2 linked regions of the Homo sapiens genome follow. The protein of the gene in region 1 interacts with the protein of each later gene in a biochemical or structural test. Each region holds a gene or a part of one and is shown in the gene's direction. Other genes may lie near its edges.

Region 1 (3,810 bases):
AATGGCGAGGCTTCTGGGGTGGTATTTATGCCTATGGCGAGAAGAAGAAGTGGCGGCTGGCAGATCTCTCTGGCTTTTCCTTGGCTGACCAGAACATGTTGTGACGTTGTGAAAGTTTAGTTGCAGTAGGTATATGAACTGTGAGAAGTTTTTGAGGAGTCTTAAGAGGATCCACCCACCTCCTTTCTTCACGTTTTCTGTCTTCCCTACCATCTTTAAGAATTTGTTTTTAGTTTAACTTCCTAGTTCTCCGTCTACTACTCTTCTTGAGCTTGGAGCTGGTTTTCAGATTCAACCTCTAGGTACTCAAATTTCATATGTCAAAACTAAACTCATCATCTCTCTCCTCTTTTTTTTTTTTTTTTTTGAGATGGAGTCTTGCTTTGTTGCCCAGGCTGGAGTGCAGTGGCGTGATCTCGGCTCACTACAACCTCCGCCTCCTGGGTTCAAGTGATTCTCCTGCCTCAGCCTCCTGAGTAGCTGTGATTACAGGCTTCCACCACCATGCCTGGCTAATTTTTGTATTTTTAGTAGAGGTGGGGTTTCACCAGGTTGGCCAGGCTGGTCTCGAACTCCTGACTTTGTGATTCACCCGCCTCAGCCTCCCAAAGTGCTGGGATTACAGGCGTGAGCCACCGTGCCCAGCCCTCTCTCCTCTCCTTACTGCCTTTTTTTTTTTTTTTTTTGACACAGGGTCTTGCTCTGTTGCCCAGGCTGGAGTATAGTGGCATGATCATGGCTCACTGCTGCCTTGACCTCCTGGGCTCAAACGATCCTCCAAGTAGCTTGGACTATAGGCACCTGCCACCATGCCTGGCTAATTTTTGTATTTTTTGTAGAGACAGGGTTTCACCATGTTTCTCAGACTGGTCTCAAACTCTTGGGCTCAAGTGATCCTCCCACCTTGGCCTCCCAAAGTGCTGAGATTACAGGCATGAGCCACCGTGCCCAGCCTCTTCACTGCCTTCTGTTCCCAACCTCTAAACCAAGCTTGTGGAACATGTGGCCCAGGATGGCCTTTGAATGGGGCCCAACACAAATTTGGAAACTTTCTTTTTTTTTTTTTGAGACGGAGTTCCGCTCTCGTTGCCCAGGCTGGAGTACAATGGCGTGATCTCGGCTCACTGTAACCTCTGCCTCCTGGGTTCTAGCGATCCTCCTACCTCAGCCTCCTGGGTAGCTGGGATTACGGGCATGCGCCACCACACCCGGCTAGTTTTGTATTTTTAGTAGAGATGGGATTTCTCCATGTTGGTCAGTCTGGTCTTGAACTTCCCACCTCAGGTGATCCACCTGCCTTGGCCTCCCAAAGTGCTGGGATTACAGGCGTGAACCACCGTGCCTGTTCTTAGGTTTGTAAACTTTCTTAAAACATGAGGGTTTTTTTTTTTTGTGAGATATATATTTTTTAGCTCATCAGCTATAGTAGCGTTAGTGTATTTTATGTGAGGCCCAATATAATTTTTCTTCTTTCAGTGTGGCCCAGGGAAGCCAAAAGATTGGACACCCCTGCTCTAAACTTTAGTGAATGTCACCACCATCTGTCCACCAAGTTCCCTGATATCTCTCCCCTTACCTTTCCTCTCCTGTTCAGTAGGCTAGCAAGCCTCGTCCCTTCCCTTCTTCCTTAGAAGCATTTCTTTTTTTCTTTTTTTTTTTTTTGAGACGGAGTCTTGCTCTGTCGCTCAGGCTGGAGTGTAAAGGCACGATCTTGGCTCACTGCAACCTCCACCTCCTGGGTTCAAGCGATTCTCCTGCCTCAGCCTCCTGAGTAGCTATTACAGGCACGCACCACCACGCCCGGCTAATTTTTGTATTTTTAATAGAGATGGGGTTTCACCACGCTGGTCAGGCTGGACTCAAACTCCTGACCTCATGATCCGCCCGCCTTGGCCTCCCAAAGTGCTAGGGTTACAGGCATGAGCCACTGCGCCCGGCCAGAAACATTTCTTAAAGCCTTCTCCTTCTTAACTTGCGTTGGCAAATCTTTCTGTAAAAGGCCAGGAAACATTTTAGGCTGTGTGGGCCATGAGGCAAAACTGAGTTACGGCTGCATCGGTGTGATCTGTAGTGCGCCAGAGGCAGTGACAAGCAGTGAGAGCATCCCATATGGTCTCTGTCACAACTAATCCACTCTGCTGCTGTAGTGCAAAAGCAGCCAGAGATAATCCGAAAGCCAATGGGCGTGCCTGTGTTCCAATAAAACTTTATTTATGGACTGAAATTTGAATTTGTTATAATTTTCATGGGCCGTGAAGTATTATTCTTCTTTTGATTTGTTTTCAACTTTTTTTTTTTTTTGGGAGATGGAATCTTGCTCTGTTGCCCAGGCTGAAGTGCAGTGGTGTGATCTCGGCTCACTGCAGCCTCTACCTCCTGGGTTCAAATGATTTTCATGCCTCAGCTTCCCAAGTAGTTGGGACTATAGGCACCCGCCACCACAGCCGGCTAATTTTTGTATTTTTAGTAGAGATAGGGTTTTGCCATGTTGGCCAGGCTGGTCTCCAACTCCTGGCCTCAAGTGATCCACCCTCCTTGGCCTCCCAAAGTGCTGGGATTACAGGCTTGAGCCACTGTGCCCAGCCAGCCATGTGACTATTTGGGGGAAAATAATTTGAGGCTGAGGGGGACTGCAGATGTACATAACCCTGAGTAGAGGAGTGTGTTTGATAAACCTGGGAGAGCCAGAATATTCCAGAATGGTTAGAGTGGCAAGTAGGGGGAGAGGGGTTGGGGGTGTGCCGGGGAAGGAGATAGAACCTGGGGAGATGGGTCATTTTCTAAATGCAGTGGAAAAGCCTTTGGTTTGATTGAAGTGGGTGGCATCTTCGGATGCGTTCTGGAAAGCTCTTCTAGACTGCAGGGTGGAGAATGGATTTGAAGAAAACAGGGAGGGGAGGCAAGGAGACCAGTTGGGAAGCTCAGAGCAGGGTGGTGGAAGTGGAGATGGTGAGAGGTGTGTGGATTTGGAATGTATGTTGCAGCTAGTGTCAACAGGTCTTGCTGGTGTGTTGATCGGAGGGAGTAAGGGAACCTCAGGGGGTCTCACTTCTTGCAGGTCACTTGTAATGCACTTTTTCCCTTTTGTATTTTCCCCATCTGTCCATCCTTTATTCTGCCACTAGAAATCTCTTCCCAAAAAAAAGGAGGTAAAAGGCAAATACAAATTTGGAAAAAGTTCCTTAATGTAGAAAGTGCTTTTATAAATTAAAACAACAAAACCCAAAACAAAGAGGAACATATCAGTATAAGAATGGGCAAGGAACTTGGATAGACACTTCATAATAAAACATATACAGGCTGGGCATGGTGGCTCATGCCTATAATCCCAGCACTTTGGGAGGTTAAGGTGGGCAGATTGTTTGAGCCCAGGAGTTCAAGACCAGCCTGGGCAACATGGGGAAACCCAAATTTTTTCTCTATAAATACAAAAAAATTAGCTGGGTGTGATGGTTCATGCCTGTAGCCCCAGCTACTCAGGAGGCTCAGGTGGGAGGATCGCTTGAACCCGGGAGGTCAAAGCTGCAGTGAGCCAAGACTGCACCACTGCACTCTAGCCTGAGTGAAAGCGTGAGACTCTGTCTCTTAAAACAAATGAACACACACACACACAAAACCATATAAAAAGTCCTCAACTATTTAGTCTCGCCAGTGATTGAATAATTGCAAATTTAATTAAAAAACAGCTTGAAGACAGAAATATGTAAAAAAAAAATGGTATTGGCAGGGTGTAAGGAAATGGTCCTGAGCTTCCTGAAGGACCATTTGGCACTGTACAATTCCACTTCTAGAAATTTCTTCTCAGGGAGC
Region 2 (3,810 bases), on another chromosome or scaffold:
GAGGTCTCACCATGTTGCCCAGGTTGGTCTTGAATTCCTGGACTCAAGGAATCCGCCTGCCCAGCCTCCCAAAGTACTGGGATTACAGCCTGAGCCACTGCACCTGGACAAGAATATTTTCATGCCATGAAAATGTGCTAGAGAAAGCAATCCTTAATGGCTACGTAAACCATTTTGTAAATGTCCACAATTCAACTATTTTTGCGCATTGACTTCCTCTTTTATGTCGTGTAATAAAAAAATGCTGTAGGCTGGGCGCAGTGGCCCACGCCTGTAATCCCAGCATTTTGGGAGGCCAAAGTGGGCGGATCACCTAGGGTCAGGAGTTCGAGACCAGCCTGGCCAACATGGTGAAACCCTGTCTCTACAAAAAAAAAAAAATACAAAAATTAACCAGGCATGGTGGTGCGCACACCTGTAATCCCAGCTACTCAGGAGGCTGAGGCAAGAGAATTGCTTGAACCCGGGAGGCAGAGGTTGCAGTGAGCTGAGATCGTGCCACTGCACTCCAGCCTGGGGGACAGAGCAAGACTCGTCTCAAAAAAAAAAAAAAATACTGTGATGAACGTCTCACTAAATAAAGGCTAGATTTAAGAGCATCTATTTGATTTTTTCCAAAGGAAACGATGTTAAAGAGTGGAAAGCAAAAGCAGTTTTACAGCAGTGATGACAGTCCTCTTCCCATGGACTCTCTACCTAGATTTTAAGTGCTGTGGGCGTGCTCCTAACTTTTCCTCCTGCACACCCGGGGCTGGCAGCCCTGCCTCTAGTCCTCTCTGGGACCGGGAGGCCCTGTGAGCCAGTGAGGAGGCCATGGGGATCCTGTGTGTGCTCACACCGGGCAGGGCGTCTGCCCTGAGCCCTTCCTCTGTGTTCCTAACTGCAGGTCTCATGGCCAGCAGGTTGTTGAGGGCTGGGTGGAGCCAAGGTGTAACGCCTGTGGCACCCCTCAGAGATGCCTGCGTGTCACTGACACCCCTCTCGCCTGCAGAAGCCATGGGGTGTTTTGGGTGGTCATTGTGGCCCCCAGCGCCGCACCTCAGTGTCACTAGCTTCTGGCAGCCGTCTCTTGGCACACAGGCCACAGTGCTTAGGATAGTTTGTGGCGCTTTGTCTGGATTTTAGCAACTGGCATCTGCTTTTCATGCTAGTTCCCCCGCCTGCCTTTGATTTGCCCTGTGTTCCATTGCAGAACGAGATGCTGGAGGAGGGCCAAGAATATGCTGTCATGCTGTACACCTGGAGGAGCTGCTCCCGGGCCATCCCACAGGTGCCACGCTCGCCTGGCTCTTCCCCTCCAGCCACACCCTGCCAGGCCCCTGCCACACCACACCCCTGCCCCTGCCATGCCTGGCCCACTCTCCTCCCAGTTCTCACCCCACAGCAGGGCGGGATCACTAGCTCTAGAAGCCCAGCGGCTGCTTCTGGCTGGATCAAAGCCTCTTATGTCATCCTTGTTCCTTTATTCCCAGGTGAAATGTAACGAGCAGCCTAACAGAGTGGAAATCTACGAGAAAACCGTGGAGGTTCTGGAGCCTGAGGTCACAAAACTGATGAATTTCATGTACTTCCAGGTAAAATGGCAAATAATCTGGGGGGGGTGTAACACCGAGGGGTGGGTTGCTGACCCCTTCCTACCCATCACTGTCACTGTGAACACCCTGAACAGAGTGCCTGCAAATTAAAGCAACCAGTTTCTGAGACAAAAGGGACCAAGCCTTTGACAGTCTAAAGTTCCTCATGCCCTTTCGGAATCAACGCTCCTTTTGTGGTTCACTTCTCTTCTCTGAGAGTGATTTTATGTTTCCTTCATGGAGCCTGCTTTCTGTCAGTTTCAAGTACAATGCTTTGACTTTTTGCCAGTTTGTACTTTTTTTTTTTTTTTTTTTTTTTGAGACAGAGTCTTGCTTTGTCGCCCTGGCTAGAGTGCAATGGCATGATCTCGGCTCACTGCAACCTCTGCCTCCCAGGTTCAAGCGATTCTCCTGCCTCAGCTTCCTGAGTAGCTGGGATTACAGGTGCCCGCCACCACGCCCAGCTAATTTTTGTATTTTTAGTGGAGACAGGGTTTCACCATGTTGGCCAAGCTGGTTTTGAACTCCTGACCTCAGATGATCTGCCCATCTTGGCCTCCCAAAATGCTGAGATTACAGGTGTGAGCCACCACGCCTGGCCAATTTGTACTTTTGTTTTCGTCTGCTCTTTCAGGTATTTTCTTGCTGTTAGCCTCACCCTGACTGTCCATTCCTGGTGGTCCTCGCCCTGGCCTTGGTTAGGCAAGAAGTAGCCACATGGAAGGGGCTTGCTGCTTTTTAAAGAAGTATTTTGGAAACATCCAGATTTTTTATGATGATGTCCTTCAGCAAAGGGAGGAGATGGAACTAACTGGGAGATGAATTTTTGTTTTACCTTGAAAGTTACCAAGAGGAAAAAAATCTCTCCCAGTTTTCACTTCTGAAAGTTAGAACATCTGAATTTTACAGGCGTTTTATTGGAGCATTTTGCTCAGTAATTTTGCTGGAATAATCAGCAAGATTTTGTTACTTTAGTGATGTAGTTGGTAAAGTGCAAGTCAAGTAATGATGGTGCAGAGCAGGCAGTGGGAGCTGCTTTCAGGAAGGGGTCTGGTTGCCCACATTGTAAACACTTCGGCCTGGAGCCTCACTGGGCAGATCGTTTCTCATCGAGGAGCAGTGACTGCAGGTGCTTGAAGGAGGGACATGGGCTTGGCTCCTCACTGACCTGCAGCTTTCTGCCCTCCTGCTTCCTCTGCACAGAGAAATGCCATTGAGCGTTTCTGCGGGGAAGTGAGGCGCCTGTGCCATGCCGAGAGGAGGAAGGACTTCGTGTCAGAAGCCTACCTGATCACACTGGGCAAATTCATCAACATGTTCGCTGTGCTGGACGAGCTGAAGAACATGAAGTGCAGTGTGAAGAACGACCACTCAGCGTACAAGAGGTGAGCACCCACCTCGCGCACTGCGGGCCCTCCCGAGAGCACCCAGCTCAGTGGCCTGCCTTGTGCACAGCAGGTGTGCGTCTTTGTTTGCTGAAGTCGTCACTTCTGGTAGGCAGCAGCTACGTCTCAGTGTCAGGGCTGTGTGAGCACCTGCTTCGAGGGATAAGGTGAGGGGAGCCAGCAGATAAGTGCATATCGTGGCTTTGCACAGCTAGAGCAGGCTCTTCGTGCCCTGGCTGTCCTCAGATGTCACAGAGGACCTTCGAGCCCCTGGGAAGACAGACATGCACAAGATGTAGGCCTAGCTCACAGAGCACAGGCATCTGGCTCAGGGAGCATCTTGGCAAGGGGGCAGGTGGCCTCTGCAGCCTACCTTGGGCGTTGGGGCTGCAGTCCTCGGTGCCGGTCACTCGCCAGCGGGGGTCCCCAGCACATGAGCACCATCCCAGCAATGTGCAGACGTGGCCCGTGCACAGTCACAGGGTGTCTCGTGGTCACACTGCGCTTCCAGATCCTCTCCCTGGTGGTTTTCTTTCTGGATGTAGAGAGCTTCTGGAGAAGCTAGCCTCTGGAGAGGCTGGCAAGACGAGCGGAAGAGGCAGGCATGGCCCAGTGTGTGCTTCTGGAGCAGTGTGGGGCAGTGGGTGGCCGATGGGCATTTGGTGACACTCGGCGCGCTGCCGACCGGCGTTCGGTGACACTTGGCACGCTGCCGACCGGCGTTTGGTGACACTTGGCACGCTGTCTCCTGATGCTCTTGCTCTGCTTCATCTGTGCTCAGTGCTTTTGAAGACATGTTTTGCTGGAATGAGATGCTAATTTCAATTTCCTCTGCTAAGTAAGGCATCTTA

Evidence for each region.
Region 2: the proteins of GAS7 (region 1) and CYFIP1 form a complex in vitro, tested with the Homo sapiens proteins (one study listed by BioGRID).

What each region holds. Positions count from the first base shown.
Region 1 is NC_000017.11:10,188,432-10,192,241, reverse strand, and holds part of GAS7 (growth arrest-specific protein 7), read left to right. Parts: intron 1-3,810. UniProt on the Homo sapiens protein: May play a role in promoting maturation and morphological differentiation of cerebellar neurons.
Region 2 is NC_000015.10:22,942,322-22,946,131, reverse strand, and holds part of CYFIP1 (cytoplasmic FMR1-interacting protein 1), read left to right. Parts: intron 1-1,192; coding exon 1,193-1,270; intron 1,271-1,472; coding exon 1,473-1,574; intron 1,575-2,777; coding exon 2,778-2,959; intron 2,960-3,810. UniProt on the Homo sapiens protein: Component of the CYFIP1-EIF4E-FMR1 complex which binds to the mRNA cap and mediates translational repression. In the CYFIP1-EIF4E-FMR1 complex this subunit is an adapter between EIF4E and FMR1.